Homo sapiens: one gene and its partners. The protein of the gene in region 3 interacts with the protein of the main gene of each other region in a pairwise test. Each region holds a gene or a part of one and is shown on either strand. Other genes may lie near its edges.

The links.
Region 1: the proteins of TCL1A (region 3) and WDR47 interact in binary tests that used the Homo sapiens proteins (3 or more experiments, as listed by UniProt).
Region 2: the proteins of TCL1A (region 3) and FLACC1 interact in binary tests that used the Homo sapiens proteins (3 or more experiments, as listed by UniProt).
Region 4: the proteins of TCL1A (region 3) and PRTFDC1 interact in binary tests that used the Homo sapiens proteins (3 or more experiments, as listed by UniProt).

What each region holds. Positions count from the first base shown.
Region 1 is NC_000001.11:108,969,697-108,976,123, forward strand, and holds the end of WDR47 (WD repeat-containing protein 47), read right to left. Parts: intron 5,059-6,427; coding exon 4,840-5,058; intron 1,877-4,839; coding exon 1,734-1,876; 3' UTR 518-1,733; downstream 1-517.
Region 2 is NC_000002.12:201,287,741-201,291,353, forward strand, and holds the end of FLACC1 (flagellum-associated coiled-coil domain-containing protein 1), read right to left. Parts: intron 2,120-3,613; coding exon of another isoform or gene 2,046-2,119; coding exon 1,956-2,045; intron 1,827-1,955; coding exon 1,717-1,826; coding exon of another isoform or gene 1,701-1,716; exon of another isoform or gene 1,657-1,700; intron 1,042-1,656; coding exon 915-1,041; 3' UTR 531-914; downstream 1-530.
Region 3 is NC_000014.9:95,711,096-95,718,415, forward strand, and holds the start of TCL1A (T-cell leukemia/lymphoma protein 1A), read right to left. Parts: upstream 3,031-7,320; 5' UTR 2,972-3,030; coding exon 2,852-2,971; intron 1,680-2,851; exon of another isoform or gene 1,456-1,679; intron 1,302-1,455; coding exon 1,125-1,301; intron 708-1,124; coding exon 660-707; 3' UTR 654-659; intron 1-653. UniProt on the Homo sapiens protein: Enhances the phosphorylation and activation of AKT1, AKT2 and AKT3. Promotes nuclear translocation of AKT1. Enhances cell proliferation, stabilizes mitochondrial membrane potential and promotes cell survival.
Region 4 is NC_000010.11:24,851,593-24,858,630, forward strand, and holds part of PRTFDC1 (phosphoribosyltransferase domain-containing protein 1), read right to left. Parts: intron 6,818-7,038; coding exon 6,800-6,817; intron 5,404-6,799; coding exon 5,321-5,403; intron 3,773-5,320; coding exon 3,726-3,772; intron 1-3,725. UniProt on the Homo sapiens protein: Has low, barely detectable phosphoribosyltransferase activity (in vitro). Binds GMP, IMP and alpha-D-5-phosphoribosyl 1-pyrophosphate (PRPP). Is not expected to contribute to purine metabolism or GMP salvage.

The DNA of each region.
Region 1 (6,427 bases), on a different chromosome or scaffold from region 3:
CTCTATTGCAATTCCCTTGTCTTGAATAAATTGGCTCTATCTAGGCAGAGGGCATGGTGAACCTGTTGGGTGATTACCTAATTCGACATATTCATACTCTTGAGTTCAAATTTATACATATTGTTAGGCTTTTATTAGTCAACTTTCACAACATATTAAGGATAGAAAGTTCTCTAAATCTTGGATAAAAGAGACAGAAGACACACAAAAGTTATACAGGCCAGGCACAATGGCTCACGCCCATAATCCCAACACTTCAGGAGGTTGACTCAGGAGAATCACTTGAGGCCAAGAGTTCAAGACCAACCTGGACAAAGCAAGACCCCATTTTTAGAAAAATTATTTTTTTGTTAATAAGTTATACAGTTGCCAAGGATTAAAAAGCAAATTAGTAGAAGAACTTTAGAAAGAAATCTAAGAAACTGATTATGGACTTCATCCACTGGACCTCACTTTCTCCCAGTAAACTGAAAAAATAACATTATTTTGAAAGCCAAAGACTGAGGAACAGAAACAGTTTTAAATGTCAAGAGGTCTTTATTGAAATAATAGCACAGTTACACTTCTAATACCCTTTCCACTTGTATACAACAGATGAAAAATGCTTGCTACATACAGTGCACAGACAGTTCAATAATGAGAACTAATACAACTGCATTTGAAATAAATAAAATAGCCTATTTAAATAATTTAAAGTAAAATTACTGTACAATATGAAAATAAAGATACATAAATGTTAGAATCTACAAAGCTGTAGAAATAAAATCATTATTCTGCATTACACAAAACAGTGCAAGAAAAAAATCCAAATAAGCTTTTGGAGTGCAAAGTTTAAATCTTCCATTTTAAATTATCATGCAGACATAGCATTTCAAGCCATGCTATGGTCTATGTCAAGGATTTTAATTTTTAAGGAGAAAAATGCCAGTAAATTTACTGTACCATCAAGTGTTGCATCACATAACTGCTGCTGCTCTGCTTCTACAGTTCAGTTTGGAAGGGAGGTATCCTGTTGCATTCAAAAAACTGAAGTTAACAAGTTTCTGAAGCAAACACATTTACCTTTTAGCCTGAAACAAAATTATATGACAAAATAATCATATCCCTGGGTTTAAGAAAAAAGGGCCTATACCATGTAGTAAACTAAGAAGCAGTTTTTCATTCATCTTTAAACTCCACAATGATCCTTAAGTGAAAGCAACCATGTAACTTTTGAGTGACATATATTATGGAATTCTGACCTCTAGAAGACAAGTGATAATACAATATGGGATCGTGAGAAGAGCAAAAGTAATTCTGAACACCTGGGAAGTTTAATCTGGGAGGAACTTGGTTGCATTACATTTAATAATATAGTTGAAGTATAATTCCATTTCAATGTGCATATAAAACTGTTATTTAGGCAAAGACCAAGGAATGCATTGAATACTAAACCGTAAACACATTGTCCATCCTGACTTGGAGTGCACACCAACAACTGAAGAGCTCTTCTGCAGACTTTGGCAACGAGACTACATATAGCAGGTCACAGCAGCACGAGCTCACATGGAAGACTGAAAGCACTGCGGAATAACACCACCCAACACCTCCTATCAGTGGGATACATGGTAATAAGGGGCCTCTTCGTGCTAAACCACTTTCCTGGACACTATGTTCTTCAGATTTGTAATTTTCACAACTCAGTAGTCTTAAGTCTCTGTGCTTTTGCTGCATAGACTGACATGCGGTGTGCTCTACCCATTGTAAGTCCAGAGGGTGACAGTTCTATCTGCAGAGGATGACAGGAAGGAAAGATCCTGGGTGTGCCATCTGCACTGAATCACTTTGTCCTTGTGCTCCCCCACCACCATGATAGGAAGCTGCTTGGTGAGGTCCCCTAAATTACAAAAGAGATGTTGATTTACAATGCAAAATAAGTATATGTATAGATTGTATAGACTTCCTGTTACTTTAAGACATTACAGTATAAAAAATCTTAAACTACATTAATATAATACATTGAAAGGTTTATACAGGGATAAATTACTACCTACCTAATTATGCTATTAGTATTTGCTAACATATACCCATACAGCAACATTTGACAAGTTGCCTCTCTCTCTCTCTCGGAAATTCTCTCAACTTGATTTCTCCCTGATTTCAGTGCCACTTCATCTTTTGCTAGTTTCCCTTTTCTTCTTGACGTAAAGCTTGGTGAATCCCAGGAGTCAACCCTCAGATTTCTTCTGTTCTCTCTGTACCTAACTTCCTAAAAAATTTCATCTAGCAACATGGCCATTTATATATTTACAATTCATACATATTTTATCTCCAATCTTGGTTCTCATCTGAGCTCCAGACTAGTATCCAAATAGTCATTCAATATCTCACTTGTCTGATAGTCATCCTAATTTAAACTTGTCTAAAACCAAACTCTTGGTTTTCTTGCCTAAACCTGTTCCTCCCCTTACCTGCCTCCCTTATCTCAATGGCACCATCTGGTTGCTCATGACAAAAACCTAGGAATCGTCATTGATTCCTTTTCCCCTCACTCCTCAAAGCTGATCCAAACAAAATATATCTCAAATTTAGTCATTTCTTACTACCTCCACCTCCACCACCCTAGTCCAAGCCACCATCATCTCACCTGAACTATTCCAACAGCCTCCTCACTGACATTTATATTTCTACTCTTGCCCCCTTACAATCTACTCTCCCTACAGAACCCCAAATTCTCCAAAAATATAATTCAGCTCCTATCCCTTCCAGTTAAAATCTTCCAAAGGCTTCACATTATACTTTTTAAAATGCTTATAGCCCACCAACTATAATAAATGTACCACTGTGGAAGGGGATACTGATAATGGGGGAGGCAGGCTATGCATGTGTGAGTCAGGAGTATATGGGAAATCTCCGTATCTCTCAATTTTGCTGTTAACCTATAACTGCTATTAAAAATAAAGCCCTTAAAAAAAATGTCTATAGGCCGGGCGCGGTGGCTCACGCCTGTAATCCCAGCACTTTGGGAGGCCAAGGCAGGCAGATCACGAGGTCAGGAGATCAAGACCATCAAGATCAAGGCTAACATGGTGAAACTCTGTCTCTACTAAAAATACAAAAAATTAGCCAGGTGTGGTGGCGGGCGCCTGTAGTTCCAGCTACTTGGGAGGCTGAGGCAGGAGAATGGCATGAACTGGGAGGTGGAGCTTGCAGTGAGCCGACATTGCACCACTGCGCTCCAGCCTGGGCGACAGAGCGAGACTCTGTCTCAGAAAAAAAAAAAAAAAAAGTCTATAAAACCCTGCCTCTGATTTATTCTTCTGTGTCTCTCTCTCTTAGTTCACTAAGTTCCAGGCACATTGGCTTCCTGTAGTGTCATGAACGTGCTAAGCTGGTTCCTACTTCAGCATCTTTATACTTGCTGTGCTCTTCTCCTAATATCCTGGCCTGGCTTGTTCCTCCTCATCATTCTGGTCTCTATGCAAATGGCATTTCCTTGGAGAGACCTACTCCAATTATCCTATTTAAAATAGCCTTCCCCCTGCAGTGAGCCAAGATGCACCACTGCACTCCAGCCTGGGCAACAGAACAAGACTCTGTCTCAAAATAAATAAATAAATAGCCTTCCCCTATTCACCCTAGTCACTATCTCCCTACCATACTAATTTTTTAAACAGCACAAATACCTAAAATTACATTGTTTATTGGTTTACTTTTTATTGACCTCTAAAATATAAGCTCCATCAGGGAGGGAATTAACTGTCTTATTCTCATCTGTCAGTCCCTAATTGATATACAATAAATATTTGCTTGATGAATGTTTAAAACTAAAACTAGATACTAAGACCTAATTACAAAGATTGTATGCTAATGATTTTTTAATGTAGAAGCTAATAACAGTACACAAATCCATCATTTATCTCAGAATGAGTCACTATAAATAAATGTTGATTTTAAAAAATATCTTAAGCGGAGGCAGGAGGATCACTTGAGGCCTGGAATTCAAAACCAGCCTGGGCAACATGGCAAGATCCCATCTTTACAAAAAAATTTTTAAAATGTGCCATCCATGGTGGTGCACAGATGTAGTTCCAGCTATTCGGAGGCTGAGGCAGAAGGATGGCTTGAACCCAGGAGGTCAAGGGTGTAGTGAGCAATAATCGTGCCACTGCACTCCAGCCTGGGTGAAAGAGTGAGACCCTGCCTCAAAAAAAAAAAATCAAAAACTAACAATAAGGTTGGGCATGATGGCTCACGCCTATAATCCCAGCACTCTGGGAGGCCAATGCAGGCAGATCGCTTGAGCTCAGAAGTTTGAGACCAGCCTGCGCAACATGGCAAAATTTTGTCTCTACAGAAGATACAAATATTAGCCAGGTGAGGTGGCATGCACCTGTAGTCCTAGCTACTTGCAGGGCTGAGGTGGGAGGATCACTTGAGCAGGGGAGATAAGAGGATACAGTGAGCTAAGATCACACCACTGCACTCCAGCCTGGGCGACAGAGCGAGACCCTGTCTCAAAAACAAAAACAGGCTGGGCGTGGTGGCTCACGCCTGTAATCCCAGCACTTTGGGAGACGAAGGCGGATGGATCACTTGAGCCCAGGAGTTCGAGACCAGCCTGGGCAACATAGTGAGCCCCTGCCTCTATAAAAACAAAAACAAAACCTAACAATAAGACTATTCACTGCTTATTTAATAATTTGCTATTATATATCTTAATATAGTCTCAGAATCTGCTCAATAAATACTATAAAATAATTGAAAGTATTATATAATCAACCACATCACATTAACAAAAAAATAAAGGTCCCAAATAGAACAGGAAAGACTAAAAACAGAGAAGTCGATCTCAATCACCTTGTAGGTCTGTCACCTTTATTTTCATATCATAAGAGCCTGTTAGCAAGTAGTGAGCTCCAGGGGAGAATCGAACAGAGCGAACATCACTGGAATGAGGATGATAACTTTGTACCATTCTTCCTCCTCTTATGTCATACAACATGCAGCTAGAATCTTCTTGACCTGTGGCTAAGAGACGACCACTGGGATCTACAGCTACAGATGCCACTGCACTGCCTGTAGTGGTAGGAATGAAAGTTTAAATACAGAAAATCAATATACCCAAATGGCAACACAGCTGATTATGTCCATTGAACCATATACTAAAGATTTAATGTAGTTTATCAATACTATTCAGCGATGAAAAAATCCAAATTAACAGTTAACCAATAAACAGTTGTGTCCTTTTAAGGCCCAAGGCCTAAACAAAATTTTGTAAGAAATGAGAAAGTCCATTTTTTGTCATTTGAGAGAACTGTGTGCAACAGCATCACCTATAGTGCAATAGATGAGCCATGCTACAGAAACCACTTTTCTCAATCCAGTGTTTTCACTACTGGAAGTATCTAGAAATGCTCCTATACCCAGCTAAGAGTGTAGTTAAAGAGACAAGAAATTCAGTAACAAAATGTATTTTAGGACAACAGTATAGGAAATGTACTAAAGCAACACAAGATTACTGCCAATAGGAACTGTGAACAGAAAATAAGCTCTTGGGGGCATATATTCAGGGCAACTTGAATCCTTGTCTCCCAGAAATAAAATAAATAATTTTATTTTATAAATTATTATAATTAATAATTATTTTGTTAATTAATTATACAGGCTGGGCGCGGTGGCTCATGCCTGTAATCCAGCACTTTGGGAGACCGAGGCAGGTGGCTCACAAGGTCAGGAGATCGAGACCAGCCTGGCCAACATGGTGAAACCCCATCTCTACTAAAAATACAAAAGTTAGCCGAACGGAGTGGCACGTGCCTGTAATCCCAGCTACTCACGATGCTGAGGCAGGAGAATCGCTTCAACCTGGGAGGCGGAGGTTGCAGTGAGCTGAGATTGCGCCACTGCACTCCAACCTGGGCGACAGAGCGAGACTCCATCTCAAAAAAAAATAATAAATTTTTTTGAGACAGAGTGAGACCCTGTCTCAAAAAAATAAATTAAAAAAAAAAAAGTTTGAATAACACTGCTCTAGACCAAAGTGGTCTAGGAAGACTTCATAAAAAAATGGGACACAAGTTAGACCTTGAAAAACAATAAACAGCATAAATAAGAGTATGTATGTATGTATACACAGGCGAACACATACATTTGTATGTAATAAAGAATAATCTTTTCTTGAAATACTGAAAGAGAAGAGGGCTATTACGATCAGGAAGAATTACATGAGAAAAGGTTTAGAGGAAAAGTATAAAACAGCTTACAGGAAGGTAGATCAGTTTGGCTGGAGATAAAAGTTAACTTGAAAGGCAGCTTGAAACTGAAATGCAAAAGGTAGGTTAGGGCCAGGCCGTCAAGCGCCTAAATCTCAAACTGCAGAGTTTTGAACTTGTCTCTGTAAACAGTAAAGCATCATTGTAGGTTTCTAAGCAAGAGAATTACATGA
Region 2 (3,613 bases), on a different chromosome or scaffold from region 3:
TGGTTTCTGCCAATGACATCTCACAGGTGGAAAACATCTGGACTACAGACATGTTCTACTTGAGTCTCCCATGATCGGCACACACAGTTGTATTTTTAAAATTTGTTGTCAATGTTTAAAAATTAGGAGATATCACATAAAAACCAGAATAACTTCTTTTAAAAAATCATACTATCTGACAATATTGACCTCATGCTTTTGCATGGCAAAGGTCTGAGAAGCACCTTCTTCAGATGGGACAGTGCTCTGTGGGTCACTCTTCCCCATCCGCTGTGCCCCAGCCCTGCCCAAGCCCCTCTACTGAGGCTGCTGTTGGTTGCCACTTATCACTGTGCTTGGGCAATTGTTTTCCTTATGTCTAGCCCACTTCACTTATTTATGTTGCCTGCACTGTGGGTGTCTGAATTCTGGTGATGGTCCAGAGGAGGTGGTAAGAATCATCAGAAACCCTTCCTAAGTCATAGGTTAGGGAACATGATTGAGAGGTAGGGAAGTAGGGGGCATGGGTGTGAGAGAAAAATATTTTAGAGTAAAATCAACACATCATCTTTTTTTGCTACCTAAATGCCCCAGGGGACAAAGGTACACCTCCCAAATATAGTAAAAGTTCAATATGAAGAAGGCCTTCAAATCAGTTTCTTTCTAACGAAATACGTCAAGGTAGAAGAAAAATAGTACAAAACTCAGAGAAAGCTCAGCTCCCAGTATGGAGAGCATCATTTTTCAGTGAAGAGTCCGTGATAAGCTGTGAAATTCAGATGCGAATTCAAACATTTTCAGACATTCAGAGAGTCAGAGCAACCCAAGAACTAAACTCATTATATGCATTTTCTCAAGAAAACCCTCCCAGGAGTTTCCTGGGCCTACAGAAATGGTGTGCCAACCATCTTCAACAATGCAGAGCAACTTTTTGTTTATGATTCTTGTCCTTTCTTGCTACCATCTTGCACAGTGTCAGAATCATCCTTAGAAACAGTAATAGAGGCCAATCTCCCAGAACATCCTTCACAAATTTCTTCATTCTTAGAAATTATCTTTTGCCTGTAAAAAGAAAGGAAAGATGTATCAATGTCAACTCAAAAGCTAGAAAGGGTATAGGATATTTGGAGTGCAGGGAGAGAAATGTGCCTTCGTTCCTTCACCACAGCAGTCTCTCACTCATTACTTGCAGTGGTTTTGAATTTAGTGAGGTATGGTGTTCAGGTGACTAAAGTCCTATACGAGGAATTTTCTACTAAATCAATGCAATAAATAACTTTCTTCTATTAAAGTATTGACCAAAATTTATTTTAATGATTTAAGATGCAGCTTCAGGTAACAGTACACCTTCTGATCCAAAGGTGATTTCCATAGGAACCAGAAGCAGCTGCATGTAATGGCAAGACCATCAGACTCCCAGGGGAGATGGATTTAAAAACCACCCTCAGTCATAGAACTGAGCAAACTCAGAAACTGGAAGACAAATGTCCTGTGTTGTTTTGCATAGAAACAAGGACACAGGTGAATGGGAGAAGTATAGACACATCTCCACTCCACCTCAAGTGAACTATCTGGCTTTGTGTCACTGGCCTAGAGTGACATACCTCCCTCCCGAAAACACCTGTGCCTTGACATAACTAGGGAGCAGTTGGTCTATCTTCCTAACCCATTCCTCACTCAAACTCCTTCCCACTCCTAAAGAGAACTCAGCTATGTCTTTTTCAGCAGCAGCCGCACTTCAGATGAATGTTCTCTTCCGTCAGGATCTGTATGGTGTGCTTATACTTTTCTTCAGTTTCAGCAAACTTGGTTTGAAGCATTTTCTCCAGATTTCCCACTATAGCTTTCTGAAAGACATACATTTTAATAGCCATCTTCCCCAACCCAGAGCCATCCAGGGCAGAGCTATATGGCAGAGCTGGATGGAGACCTGGGTTCTTCCCCCAACCCCCATCCCCACTCCAGTAGGGACTCACCTCTTTCTGGAGTTCCAACTGGGTATAGTAGAGGTTTGTGTTCAGTGACTCTAGGATAAGGGCTTGTGCATGCAATTCTTCCTGCATGACCTGCATAAGAAGAAGCTGTTGCAGGACATCATGCCAATGTCTATTTATTTGGTCTCTTCTCCAGGGCACCTGGACTATGATGAAAGGGAGCAACCTGAGCTACTTTTGCATCACTCATGGCCACTCACACCCTGTCAGTCCTGCCTCCTCTCTGTCTCACCCATCTATATCCTTCTCTTCAGCCTCACCAGAGCTCATATGAATGGTTCTAATGGCAATCAGTTATTCATTCACTAAGCAAGTCTTTATTAAATACCTACTACCGATTCCAATTATATGACACTCTGGAAAAGGCAAAACTATAGAGAGAGAAAAAAGATTAGTGGTTTCTAGGGATTTGGAGGGGAAGGGAGGGATGAATAGGTGGGATAGAGGGCACTTTTAGAGCAGTGAAACTATTCTGTATGACACTATAATGGTGGATACATGACATGACATATTAGGCAAAACCCACAGAATGTACAACACAAAGAGAGAACCCTCATGTAAACTATGGACTTTAGTTAATAAGAATGCATCCACATTGGCTCATCAATTGCAACTAATGTGCCATCCCAATGCAAGATACTAATAATAAAGGAAACTAGTGGTGGGGTAGGGTGGGGTGGGGTAGTATATGGGAACTCTCTGTACTTTCTGCTCAATTTTTCTGTAAACCTAAAACTGCTCTAAAAAGTAGCTTCTTGAAACAAACACACAAACTTCCACTAAAGAATGAATAGAAGCCTGTGCAAAGGTCCTTAGAATGCAAAATGCTCAGGGGTGGAGCCAAGACAGCCGAATAGGAACAGCTCCAGTCTACAGCTCCCAGCGTGAGCGATGCAGAAGACGTATGATTTCTGCATTTCCAACTGAGGTATCGTGTTCATCTCACTGGGGATTGTCAGACAGTGGGTGCAGTACAGTGGGTGCAGTGCACTGAGCATGAGCCGAAGCAGGGCGAGGCATCACATCATCCGGGAAGTGCAAGGGGTCAGGGAATTCCCTTTCCTAGCCAAGGAAAGGGGTGACAGATGGCACCTGGAAAATCAGGTCACTCCCACCCTAATACTGCATTTTCCAACAGTCTTAGCAAACGGCACACCAGAAGATTGTATCCCATGCCTGGCTCATAAGGTCCTACGCCCACGGAGCCTTGCTCATTGCTAGCACAGCAGTCTGAGATCAAACTGCGAGGTGGCAGTGAGGCTGGTGGAGGGGCGCCCACCATTGCTGAGGATTGAGTAGGTAAACAAAGTGGCCAGGAAGCTCGAACTGGGTGGAGCCCACCGCAGCTCAAGGAGGCCTGCCTGCCTCTGTAGACTCCACCTCTGGGGGCAGGCATAACCAAACAAAAGGCAGCAGAAACCTCTGCAGACTTAAATGTCCCTGTCTGACAGCTTGAAGAGAGTAATGGTTCTCCCAGCACGCAGCTTGAGATCTGAGAATGGACAGACTGCCTCCTCAAGTGGGTCCCTGACCCCTGAGTAGCCTAACTGGGAGGCACCCCCCAGTAGGGGCAGACTGACACATCACACGGCTGGGTACTCCTCTGAGACAAAACTTTCAGAGGAACAATCAGACAGCAA
Region 3 (7,320 bases):
CCTCAAAACTCAATAGCGTATCTAATATCTGGCTCAGCTGATATAATCAAGCACCAGTGCTTATTTAATAAAGCAATGGTAAGGCCGGACGTGGTGGCTCATGCCTGTAATCCCAGCACTTTGGGAGGCCGAGGCGGGCAGATCATGAGGTCAGGAGATCGAGACCATCCTGGCTAACACGGTGAAACCCCGTCTCTACTAAAAAAAAAAAAAAAAAAAAAAAATTAGCCAGGTGTGGTGGCGGGCGCCTGTAGTCCCAGCTACTCCGAGGGCTGAGGCAGGAGAATGGTGTGAACCCGGGAGGCAGAGCTTGCAGTGAGCTGAGATTGCACCACTACACTCTAGCCTGGGCCACAGAGCCAGACTCATCTCAAAAAAAAAAAAAAGCAATGGTAAATGAAAGTGCCAGCTGAAACTTGTGAAGTACTTTATAGATATGAGCAGCTGCGATAAAGGGGGCTGCCTACAAAGCCCTTGGCTCCCGAAGTGGTAAGGGAGACATGAGTGCCTCCAGGAAGCCTCTCCCATCCCTAGGGACCCTCAGATGGCAGCAGTCGGGGAGGGGTTAGCACTGCCTTCATGGAGAAGGGGTGGTCTTTCTTTCTGATACAGCCACTGTGGACTAAGAGGGGTCAGGCTCCAGTGGAGCTCACCATACATCAGTCATCTGGCAGCAGCTCGAGAAGCATGTCCTCCACGCCGTCAATCTGAGAGGCAGAGAGAGAGAGAAGGCATTGATCGGCCAGAGCCCTCCACTCCCTCCATTCCTCACTCCTGCGCCTTCCCCTAGCTGGAAACAGCAGGTAGGAACCCAGGTGTGAGGATTTCAGGGGCTCTTGGAGACTGCCCCTCCTCCCACCAGCCTTCAGCCTGTGACTGCCCACCAGAGATGTCTTCCTGCGGCTAGCTGGTGGCTGGGAGGAAGTGGAGGTAGGGTTCTGTTAGAGACCTCAGAGGATCTATCTTCTCTCTGGTAAAGTCCTTTAGAAATCTGCACTTGTACATTTCCCCCATTTTTTAATGCTTTTGGGACTGGGATGGAGGGAAGATAAACCACTAAGGCCAGACATGGAGGAGGGCAAACCCAAGATCACCCGATGGACCTCTGGGAGAAAGACACTCACCTTGATGTGGTACACTAAGCGCCAGAAACTGGAGTCTGAGGATCGGTATCGTCCATCAGGGTAGAGCTGCCACATGATAGGCAGCAGGCTTGGGCCTATCTGGGTGGGGGTCATAGGCCTCCCCAGGACGACGTCTTCCCGACGCAAGAGCACCCGTAACTGTAACCTATCCTTTATCTGAGGAGAAGAAAAGGACAGGGCATACTTTCAGGTTCCGCTTGCCAGGGCTTCTCCAGGCGCAGAAAACCGGAATCCCTCCTGCCAGCCATCCACCCATCTGGGCAGGGGTCCGAGTGTGAAATGATGGTCATCACTGTTCCCTGAAGCTCACTTCCTTAGGCCATGCATGCTCCTCTCAGGGACTCTGGCTGGGCCAGGACCACCAGCACACACACGTGTCTAGCCACCCAGACAGGGCCATGAAAGGCACACTTTTTTCTGGCGGGTTGCAGCGGCTCACACTTGTAATTCCAGTGCTTTGGAAGGCAGAGGCAGGAGGATCGCTTGAGGCCAGGAGTTTAAGACCAGCCTGGGTCACAGAGCGAGACCCTGTATCTACAGGAAAAAAAAAAAACAACAAAGAAAGAAAGAGAGAAAAAGAATACTGGCCTTTTCAATGATGTGAGGCAAAATCTGTCCCACAGTTTGCTAGTGGGTTATTTTTTGTGGAGCATGTATCATGATTTTATGAAAAACTGTCTGGTTCGTGGTTTTGGTGTCACGTTGAAGAAGAGATTTCTCAGAGATTTAAAAAAAGAAATCCACTGAATCTTCAAATTATTTCTTCAAATTTTGATTTTAAAAAAGTAAGTATTTAACTTGATTTTTAAAGTAAAAACATATTTAAAAAATTGAAATGCCAATAAAAATGCAGATTTTGTGGTGGTTAAGAGCCTAGAATTCCAACCCCATTACCTACTAGCAATCTTACCTCGGACAAATGTACATTTTTGTGCCTCAGTTTCCCATCTGTAGAGACACAGTCAACACTCAATAATTTTTGATTGCTACTGGACATACGTGTTCTAATATATTTTTTAATTTTTATGCTTTCTTCAGTGTATGTTTGGAGAGAGTTTGAACATTTTTTGACTCTTTTTCATTGAGTAAATCCAAATACTTGTAAAAGACTTATCTATTTCTTTAACAAAAACTTAACATGGATTAAGGACCCATCTTAAGGCATCACACATTAAAAAAGTCAATATTGATTCAATACCGGCGCTTATACTACGACATCACTTGTTAAATTTGTTTTCTAAATAAAGCCCAGAGGTAGTGGAAAATACTTCACACTCTAGGCCAGTGTTTGCTATGCCTGGTTGACCCTAAACTGTTGAGGGTTCTTTTTAAAAATACAGATTTCTGGGACCCACCTGAGATGATTCCGATAATCGGCCATATGGATGAGTCACTTAGAGATACCCATTTTTAAGGATTAGGACCCCGAAGCCCAGAAAATGCCTGCTGTAGTCAACATTATAGTCACACTCCACAGGCACTGGGTCCACCCCTTTGACCGACATTCCTTTGCGGTTTTCCCACCCTTCTTCCCTGCCTGGAGAACTCCTATTCATCCTCCAGAGCCCGGCTCAAAGTGGCTTCATCTGTGGGGATCCTCCCTGCCCCATAGTGAGTGCTCCTTGAGTCCTCGCCCTTCCTAGGGCATCCCAAGCTCCCAGGGGCTGCCCCTGCTGCCTCGCCATCCGCTCCAAAGCTGGCTGTACCTCGATGGTTAAGGGCAGCCAGGCGTGCTGCTTCTCGTCCAAATACACGAACTTCTCCCAGGCCCACAGGCGGTCCGGGTGGTCGGTGACTGCCTCCCCGAGTGTCGGGCACTCGGCCATGGCGTCCTCGGGCCGCCTAAGAAGCAAGAGCCAGAGCCTCTCAAGGCCGCTCGCTGGTCCCTGGGATGTGGGGCCGACCCTTTATATCCGGGCAGCATGCGGCCGCCACCAAGCGGCGGGGCGGGAGGACGGCCTTGGGGCGGGACCCCGGGTCGGGAGAACGACCTTGGGGCGGGGCGTAAGGCAGGATGGGGCGGGGTTTGTGGGGGTCTTGGTGGCAAGTGAGGGTCCCGCGCAGGCGCTACGTCCCGGCCTGACTTGCTCCCTGGAACGGTGGCAGCTCCTGGGAACGCAGACCCGGCCCCAGCTGGCCCGCGCCTTCCTCGAGGCCCCGGCCAGCAGCGACACCGACCGCCGCCCTCTGCTGCTGCTGGAGAGGCACCGGGGTGACCTTGGCCCTTTCTTCTTCTGGAAGACCCCCCCGCTTCCCTCGGCTGCCGGACCGGGACTCTGGGCCTCTGCTGGGAACTCACAGTCGACACCAGGATGCCCAGAGCCAGGACCCACTCCTCATCTTATGGGATCAGAAGAGACCCGCGCGGGCCTGAGTTAGGCCTGGGCTTTCCCGGGTTCCCTGGATCTCCACCAGCCTGTGCCTTTGAGTGTCAGAGTACGTTTTTTGGCAAAGGACAACTCCTGACGCTCCCTCTCCCTCTTCCATACACAAAGCATGCGTTTTCCACAGGTCTGATGTGCTGTGGACATCTAATAGCTATTACAAAATGGAGAATCATGGGTTTTTGCCCTTGGGCTTTGAGTTTACTAGTGAAAGCATAGTTCGAAATGAATACTTAAAAAGAAATCCCTCCTTCCACCCTAAGATCAATGGATTTGAAAAGTGCCTGGTTTATATGATCAAAACCACCCCTCTGTAAATTACAAGCAATAAGGAAAACAATTTCACTTTATTTTGCAGTAACGCATTCCCACTAAGGCAATTAAGAAAGTCATGCACAATGAAAAACATGTGAAACCAGCTCCAGCCTGGTTCAAACATCACCATGGGATGGAGTTTGGTGTCTCATCTTCCAGCTCTTTCCCAGTTCTCTGACCAGGCACTAAGAACATAATTTGTGATCCTTTGAAATATCACCAAAGTGGAAATTAAGAGATCTGATGAGGACATCTGATTCACCTGGCAGCTGGGTATCTGCCTCTTTGCCTATCCAGAGAGCCTAATTCCCAAGAAGGGGCTGAGAGGGCCTAAGGTAGTCGAGACATAATGGGATTTACCAGGAACACAACATAGAAGAGAAAAGCCAAGGGAAGTTGGGGGTGGAGTGAGGGCCCTTGAGCTCAGCAAACCTCTTTTCCACTGTAGCCCTTAGTGGTGTTAATATTTAATATGCAAACTTAAAGGTTTCATGCTGATTTTCCTGTGAATGGCTCTTGACTCCAGACCTAGATAGCCACAGAGCAAGATGACAAGCTCGCTAATAAGCTCTGTTGGGGAGGTCTCAGCCCAGGCCAGAGCTGTGAAGTGAGAAATAAGTCCAGTTTAAATAGTGCTGCTGGGATGGACTTTTGTGGCCAGGGAAGGGGTACCCAGGAGCCAGTGTGGCCACTGACCCAGCCTCATCAATGGCCCTAGGATCCAGAATGCCACAAACAATGGAGCAAGAATCAGATCTGTGTGTCTGGGTAAGCAGAATGTTCTGAGAATATAATTCCTTTTTCCTTCTTTTGTAAGAACAATTTATTTCTTCAGTTTTGCATGAGGGCTTCTTAATATTGAGCAAGAATATACATCATTATTGCGTGAGATTTAGAAAATTATTTGAGAGAGGGTTCCAATAAATGAAAATGAATTAAGGATGTCTGTGGAGTTCATTGGGCAACTTATAGAGCCCTTGAGCTTTTTTAAGTGAACATTCCACAAGAGGGGAAACAGTAGCTATTGCATAGTCTCAGAGCTGTCTCTGAGCCTCCGTGGCATGTTATCTGCCCCATCTAAGGGTTATAAAGGCCATAAGCCTAGCTTTAGAATTTTATGTTCCTTTCCAAGTCTTTGTTAGTCTGATTTCCCTGAGGATAAGCAAATGGATGTTTCACACAGAAAGCTACAGGAAGCAATCATTTTGACAGAATCCTTAATGGATGCGTTCATGTCCTGATTTAGATCTAGTTTTGCCTTTACCACGATCACCTGTGAACTTGACAAATCCTTTGCAACTTGGCCTCAGTGCCATAGTTTTGTAATGAATGGGGCAAAATACCTGCTCTCTAAGCTTGTTTCTAACTCAGTAGGCCCCAATCCTCCTATAACATTGCCTAGTGGGAGGAGGGAATAGTTAAGAAAAGAGATGGACAAAATATATGATGTTAGTTCAGGAATGCCTACAGTTTTTGGTACAGTGGCTGTAGATCAAGGACCCCAGTGGAATTCATGGGAGCCATTCTTCTTGTTTGGGTTCCAAAGAAGGGGTTGAGGAGTAGTCAAGGCCATCAGGATGACCTTGACTCAAAGTGTTGTCCCTGGACCAGCTACAGTAGCATCACCTGGAGCTCGTAAGAATGACAGAATCTGGAGCCTCCCCCAAGACTACTGAGTCAGAATCTGTATTGGAACAAGACCCCCAGGTGATTCACGGGCATGGTAAATGTTGGGCTATATGGAGGGAGGGTCAAGAGGGAGAGATAGGGGGTGTCTGATTCAACACACCAGTGCCCTCCAGATTTCTCCAACTATGACACAGGACTTATATCGGTGTTTGTGTATCATTTACTTCCAGGCTATCTTATTTTCTGCCAAAATCACCTCTAATATATAGAGTGTTTTCCTCTTAAAAGAAAATCCTAGTAACCAAGGTCATCCTCACCAACCCTGGGGTCCTTGATTGTCAATGATTATAGCAAGCTGGAAAGAGCCTATTTAGAGGCTACTTAGGTGTTTAGGCCTTTGGGCCCTATGATGACTGAGCCTAAACCACTAAGAATCACCTGGGAAGCTTTAATGAAACACCTGCGCCTGGATCCCACTCCAAACCAATTACATCAGAATCTCCGAGATTGAGGCTTGAGAAAAGTAGGTGATGCTAACACGTAGGCAGGGTTAAGTACAATTTCTCTAAGATCTGAGTGACTGTTTTTGACGTGTGCACAGATTTATAAATCTAAATAACTACGAAAATGTCAAAGCTATTCTTTCTACCATCAATTCTCATTGTAAACTTCACCCCAACTCCATATTTTACTTCTTTCCCTTTGCCCTACTTTGCTGCTTCCAATCCTTCGTGGTCAGGGATCCATAGCCCTAAGTTTATTGGAATCATAAGGGTCTGAGATCTTGCTAATGTGTAAAACACAGAATCTGTGATATATATGTAGCTATTAAGGCATCCATGCCTGGAGTGTTTTGTTTGTTTGTTTGTTTTTTGAGACAGAGTTTCCCTCTTGTTGCCCAGGCTGGAATGCAATGGTGTGATCTTGGCTCACTGCGACCTCCACCTCCTGGGTTCAAGCGATTCTCCTGCTTCTGCCTCCCGAGTAGCTGGGATTACAGGTATGCGCCACCACGCCTGTCTAATTTTGTATTTTTAGTAGAAATGGGGTTTCTTCATGTTGGTCAGGCTGGTCTTGAACTCCTGACCTCAGGTGATCCTCCCACCTCGGCCTTCCAAAGTGCTGGGATTACAGGCATGAGCCACCGTGCCCAGCCTGTTTTTTTTTTTGTTTTTTTTTTTTTTTTTTTAGTTCCTAGGTCTGGGCCATAGTTGAAATAATTAAGGCTGCTGATCAAGTGAGTTCAGGGTACAAAAGATGTTGTAGCCTTTACTCATAAGGGATGAAATGGTATCTCTAAATTAATGGAGAATCTGAGACAAGGATATTTCAAGTAGAAATTAGGGACTGATCCTACTCTGCCCACTACATAGCTATCATCTCTCTCTTTAAAATTAACAGTTCTAAGGAACTTAAAGCTTCTCCAACTTTAAGGTGTATATGGAGATTTTATTTAAATACAGATTCTAATATGGTAGGGTTGAGGCGATTCTCAAGATTCTGAATTTGTAACATATTCATATCCTCGGAGTTGATACAGGTACTAATGGTCTATAAATCACCTCTGGGTGGCAAGGACCTATACTAACCCCCATGCTACCCTTGATACCCACACAAAACACAAATGAAAAACACAACTCACAACCCCTACTCAAAATGCAGCGAATAGTTGATTCTGCCAAGCTAGCGAGTGACCAAGATGTGATAGAATTGCACTGGACACTTTGAGCTACAACTGTGGTTGCCATTTGCCAGAGGCAAGTTAAAATTGACCTACATTTGTACTGGAAACATTTCTCAATCCTGGGATTACTCCACACCTTGGGTGTTACTGTCCTACTGATGCT
Region 4 (7,038 bases), on a different chromosome or scaffold from region 3:
GGTGAGAAATGCACACGATGAGCCCAAGAGGGACCTGGACCCGAAGGACTACTCGGGAGGAAGGAGGCAAGGCAAACAAGCCAACCTACAATGAAGAATGACTGATCTAGCATACAGAGTTGAGAAAGGGCTCAGGAAGCCTGGTGCATAACAAGAAATATGCATAATTGAGTCACGTGGCCCTGGTGTTCTAAAGCAAGCAGTATGCAGTGATACGATGCCAAAGGAAACACTCTCAACAACACAAAGGAAAGTTCAAGCAGAAGGCGTTACGACGCTGCATTATGTGAACAGGTGCGCGGGCCACAGCAACTAGAAAGCAATTCTCCCGCTGTACTCAGTGTCTTGGCTGTTTAAAGGGCTGGAAAGCAAAAGCCAGGACACAAGATGAAAGGCAACGGGATTGTTCAACTTGAGGAAGAGAATGTGGAGGTTGCATTAATGCTGGTCTTTGGGTTCATGATGCAGAGGATATTAATGAGCTCCCTACTGAGGGCAGAATGAGAGGAAATGGATTTAAGCACAGTGCAAGGTACTTATGAAAAGCAAAAGAAGATTCATTGAAAAGATGATGATTTTTTGTCAGAAAGGATTCTTTTTTTTTTTCTGAGACCGAGTCTCGCGATCTTGGCTTACTGCAGCCTCCACCACCAGGGTTCAAGCCATTCTCCTGCCTCAGTTTCCCGAGTAGCTGGGAAGACAGACGTGTGCCACCATGCCAGGCTAATTTTTGTAGTTTTAGTAGAGATGGGGTTTCACCATGTTGGCCAGGCCAGTCTCGAACTCTTGACCTCAAGTGATCCATCCGCCTCAGTCTCCCAAAGTGCTGGGATTACAGGCATGGGCCACTGAACCTGGCTATTTTTTGAGAAAGGATCTCACTCTGTTGTCCAGGCGTGTGATCATGGCTCACGGCAGCCTCTACCTCCACAGGCTCAGGAGATCCTCTCACCTCAGCCTCCTGAGTAGCTGGGACTACAGGCATGCAAAACTACGCCTGGCTAATACTTATTGGAGAGAATTCTTAAGGAACAGACAATAGCTCTCCTTCTTCAGAAGTCTTGAAACAGAATAAAGGTGCACTGGTCCAGTGATTTTCAAACTTGTTTCAGTGTTTTGGAATCTTACAGGTTTGTTTATTACAGTATTATAGATGAGAGATTTATTTGCTTACTTTTAATGGAAGTGTACTTGGGTACAGCCAGTGGGCTTATAGCCTGGGCAAAGTCATCTCCACAGTGACTATGACCAACGATGCTTTCACAAGAAGAAAACGACTGGTTCATGCTCATAGAAAGTACTGGAGGTACTTATTTTCTAGGGGGTTACATTATGGAGTCCCTTGCTAGGAAAATAAGTACTAGAGGTGAGGGACTTATTTTCTAGGGGGTTGCATTATGGAGTCCCTTGCTAGGAAGCCTGCTTGATTCCTCCAAACTGCAGAGTTTCTTGAAAAAAAGAGTAAGAGAGGAGAAGCAAGAGCAGAAGAGGTCAGAAGTTACATTGAGGAGAAAAGAAAGAATCAATCAGGAGAAAGGAACGCAAAGTACAAAGCCTCATAAATCCAGAGAGAAAGAAGGAACAGAGATTCTGAGCTAGCTAAAAGAATATGAAGCCGGGTGCGCACCTGCAGTCCCAGCTATTCAAGAGGCTGAGGCAGGAAGATCATTCGAGGCCAGGAGTTTGAGACCAGCCTAGGCAACAAAGTGAGATCCCATCTCAAAAAGAAAAAAAAAAGGTAAGGTGCAGTGGCTCACGCCTGTAATCCCAGCACTTTGAGAGGCTTAGGTGGGTGGATCACCTGAGGTCAGGAGTCCAAGACCAGCCTGGCCAACATGGTGAAACCCCATCTCTACTAAAAATACAAAAATTAGCCAGGTGTGGTGGTACCTGTAGTCCCAGCTACTTGGGAGGCTGAGGCAGGAGAATCACTTGAACCTGGGAGGCAGAAGTTGCAGTGAGCCAAGATCACGCCACTGCACTGGGCGACAGAGTCAGATTCCGTCTCAAATAATAATAATAATAATATGAGCAAATCCCAAGAAACCCTGTTTGTAACCAGGGTTATAATAATGACTTTATAGGGAGCAATGCAATCCTTCCATTAGGCAGGGCAACTCACACTGGGAAAATGAGAGCCCAAAGCCTATTTAGAAGGCCAAAACTTGAGATGTCATAGAATAAAAGGATGATGGATCAGCAGGACAATCATGAATCAGAGTGACCTATCCTTAGCTGGTAAATGCAGGCAGCTCCTACACTTACATTTGCAATAGCAGATGTTACTTGCAGATGTAGTGGAAGAGTCAGGGCAGTGACTGAAACCAGATTGCCTGGGCTTAATATTGGCCTGACACTCATGGCTACATGACTTTGGCAAGCTATTTAAGCTTGCTGTGCTCAATTTCCTCATCTGTAAAATAGGTACAACAACAGCTCCTACCTTTAGAGAGCTATTGTGTGGATGAAATGAGCTAATCTCTGTATAGCTCTTAGAATAGTGCATGGCACATCACGACCTCTTCCTAGTGTTAGCTGCTATTATTTTATTGCTGTTATTATAAGTGATATAAGAAATTTGTCATTGAAGTGAATGTTTTTCAACTTCAGTTAAAATCTTATTTATACACTGAGTATCCTGTACTATTTCCTTAGACAATTTCTGCTTAGTAACCGCATGCAACCTTGACTACATCCAGATTATACCTTTGATAATAGTAATAGATGAGAACATGCGATTGGGTCTCTCTGCCCAGAACTGACATGGTCCAGAGTTAACACATCCAGCACAGGCATGAAACTTGTTTTCAGAATGTAGAGTCACTGGCTAAATGTCGCTGGCATGTCACCCATCCATACTGCACTTCTCTTTCGCTAATGTTTGTTCAGCTTGCTGAAGAGAACTGTAGCCAAATTATCCCAGGAGCTTTGGAGCAAATGTAAGTTATAAAAATCAAGCTGAAGTCTGCCTATGCAAGTGAAAAAAAATCGCCTCTAGTGTTAGAATAATAAATAATTAGGCTGCGTGTTTATCCTTCTTGGTGTTAGAACTAGGCTTATTATGGGGAGAAGGGAGGAGAGTGTCCTAGATGAGGAAGCCCTAGAGAACACACATCTGAAGTCAAGTGTGAAGATGGTATCTAGAGATACCTGCTCTGCTAATTCTCTGTGTTACGGAGCTTTGGTTTGGAGGTGAAGGGGAGCTGTCTTAGATTTCCCCTTCTGTGCGTTACAATTCAGGCTTGCTAAAGGTCACCATTGTGCGTTGTCTGGTAATAGTTCCGGATGATGGCATAAGAATCCCTCTAAACCTCCATAGCACCTCTCCTTGTCTGACTGGTGAGAATAGAGGCCAAGGCGGGGATCCTATGTGTCTGAGTCAGTCCAGCGGGATCAGGTCTTCCTCTACTCCCTGAAACTTTTCAGCTGACTTCTCTGTAGTTAAGGTGCTGTGTGAAACATACAAATAAAAATACCCAATGCACGGAACAGAGTTCCTGTGAAAGATGCAAATTAGAACATTGAAGACCCTCATTTTGAAGGGTTCTGTTTTCCCTATCAAGGTGGGGGAGATCATGAGGAATCCGTGGGACTATCAGCCCTACACAGTTTCAAATCCACATGCAATGCTGTCAAATAGGAAACCAAAGATTCTTAAACATAAAATGAAACACCATAAGCACAAAACAAACAAACAAACAAACAAAAAACTGAAAAACACTTACAGTCAGGTCTAAAGCCGTCACTTCTGGATGTTCTCTTCACCAACAAACTACCATTAAAAAAGACATGCTTTAGTGAACCCAATCAAATCTCTATGAATTGTAAATAGAATCAAGCATCATTAAAAGATGTACTTGAAATACATATTTTGCTACTGTGGCACTATATAGATGGTTCTGGATAAAAAGAAGACAGCAGGTCAGGCACAGTGCTTACATCTGTAATCCCAGTGCTTTGGGAGGACAAGGTGGGAGGATCACTTGAGCCCAGAGTTCAAGACCAGTCTGGGCAACATAGCGAGACCCCTGTCTCTACAAAAAATTAAAAAATTTAGCTGGGTGTGGTGGCACCTGCCTGTAGTCCCAGCTACTTGGGAGGCTGAGGTGGGAGGATTGTTGTAGCCCAGGAGTTGAAGGCTGCAGTGAGCCTTGATTGCACTATTGCACTCCAGCCTAGGTGACAGAAAGAGACCCTGTCTCAAAAAGCAGATAAAATATAAAAAAACTTTTTAAAAAGGTAGCTGTCAGCCAGGCACAGTAGCTCATGCTTGTAATTCCAGCACTTTGGGAGGCCAAATCACTTGAGCTCATAAGTTTGAGACCAGCCTGGCCAACATGGTGAAAACCCATCTTTACTAAAAATACAAAAATTGGCTGGGCATGGTGGTACGTGTCTGCAGTCTCAGCTACATGGGAGTCTGAAGCAAGAGAATTGCTCGAACCCGGGAGGGTGAAGTTGCAGTGAGCTGAGATTGTACCACTGCACTCCAGCCTGGGTGACAGAGCAAGACTCCGTCTCAAAAAAAAAAAAAAAAAAAAAAAAAAAAGGTAGCTGTCCTAGCTACTCAGGAGGCTGAGGTGGGAGGATCACTTGAGCCCAGAAGTTTGAGGCTGCAGTGAGTTATGATCACACTACTGCCCTCCAGCTTGGGCTGGGCGACAGAGCAAGACCCTGTCTCATATTAAAGAATAAAAAAGAAAAAAAAAAAGGGCCGGGTGCAGTGGCTCGTGCCTGTAATCCTAGCACTTTGGGAGGCTGAGGCAGGCAGATCACTTGAGGTCAGGAGTTCCAGACCAGCCTGGCCAACATGGTGAAACCCCATCTCTGCTAAAAATACAAAAAATTAGCTGGGTGCAGTGGCAGGCGCCTGTAGTCCCAGCTACTCGGGAAGCTGAGGCATCAGAATTGTTTGAACCCAGGGGGTGGAGGTTGCAGTGAGCCGAGATTGTGCTACTGCACTCCAGCCCAGCCTGGGCAACAGAGCAAGACTCTGTCTCAAAACAAACAAACAAAGAACAAAAAAAATGAAGGGAGCGGAGCAATTGCACGGGGGCTCATCCAGCTGCTCCTGGAAACAGCTAATGGAGGCACAGTAAAGAGGAACTCAGAAACACGGCAAAGCACGTCTTCTTCCCTTACTTCTCTCAGGCTAGCAGTCAAGGGCTGTTTTTCAGTGTGGTCAAGCTGTAATACCCCAGGGGAAAAGGTCACTAGTTTGGAATATATTACACTCTTTGGAAAGAGCATCCTGTGTTAGCATCCCTTTTGGGCTTGCTTGGAAAACTAGAAATCACCATGCTATGAATGTCCAACTCACCTGGCTACCTTAATCATGTTGGGCTTGTATTTCTCTATATTGCTGAGTAGTGCTTTCATGGTCCTCCCAGTTCCGACAACATCCTTTGCAAAAAGGACAGATAAATTCAACAAAATGCATTTGAGCAGCACAATAGACTTTTCACCCAGGGAGATACTCCTGATTAATAATGCATCGTAATTAAAAATGCCATCCAATTTGGAGCCACAGTAGGAGGAAGAGTTGGTTATGTTTTATTTAGACAGGCGCTTCTTTCTGGAAGCTGAGTTTTGGGGAATCTACTGGAGACTCTTTCCTCCTTGAATCCTTTAGCTGTGTTGAAGGGCCAAATTTAGTCTTTGGACAGCATGTAGGACTCCTCGTTGAGTACACTTGGACTTGTGTCTGCACATTCAAGGACTAAATTTGGCCCTGAGTTTATGTAACACAATACAAGGCACATGAATTTTCATGGATATGTACATCTGAATACACTGAATGGATAAAAACCTCCCCCTTGTCCTCCCCCACTCAATGGGGGATTCTATGGCTGGGAAGTGAGAGGTGTCTGGACAGCAGCTGGTGACAGCCTGTGAATTCTGAGGGTCCACGGCTGCAGTGAGCTCGGGCTCATCTCTGCTGATGAGCTGCTGCACAATTAGAGGAGAATGGGCAGCGGCGATTTATTGTCCTAAGGACAGGAATCAGCTGTCATGAGCTGATTATCAAAACAACAGGTCTGAATGTAGCCAGGGTTGGGCAATTCATTTGGTTAGAGGGTCTACTCCATGGGTTATACTGAGCAAGAACTCCAGATGCACATGGCGCACACAGGCAATTGTGTAACAAAAGGTTGAAAACAGCTCCCCTGAATTTTTTGCTGTTTGATGAGACAAGCGTGCTCCTGAAGGAAACGTGGCCATTTGCTGTATTAGTCCACTACTGCCATAGGGATCCCACGTTCTCTTTTCTCTCTTTTTTTTAACAGAAAAACAAAAGTTAAAAAAAACGAAAAACGAAAAACAAAAAAACATAGCTTTCCCCATAGCTCGTCATTTTTAATTGATTGTGTTTATGATTTTGATGCTGAAAGTATTTGAGAATTCTTGAAATCATCAGAGGTCCTTAGCAAAGACACTGAATTCAGGGTAAACAGAGTTCTAACCTTGGTTTTACTGTGAAATGAATTTGGTTCAGTGAGCTAGTTTCCTCTTCTTTAAAGTTGTCTGATTCACAAAGAAGTATAAGAATCAACACAGAGATATGTGGAACTGGATACACAAAAAGGATAAAGTCGCCCACAAATACTGTTGCAAAGCTTTTATTCTACATTATTTGAAATCAGGGACGCTATCTGGCCCCTATTCATTAAATTTGGAGAGCATGCACCCAGTGGGAGCTCAAGAAATCCTTGGTCAATTTGATAACAAGGTTTACCGTTTAAAACTCACCATTAGATTCTTTCAACCTCCAAGTATGGAAAAGGAAATGCCAGCTTACCTCAACAATGAGAACATTCTGAAATAAACAAAACCCATATTTTAGAATGTGATGCCAATCTGACTCACAGGATACATACACATTTTTTTGCTTATAGTTAGAATTTCACAATTTACTTAGACGGTCCTTCCCCATCCATCTAATTCAAAGGACTAGAGGTGATCTAGGTTTTCCAGATTCATTTTAACAGGTCCTCTGGAATTAGTTGGTGGTGCAATATTAGTATCTATATTTAGGTT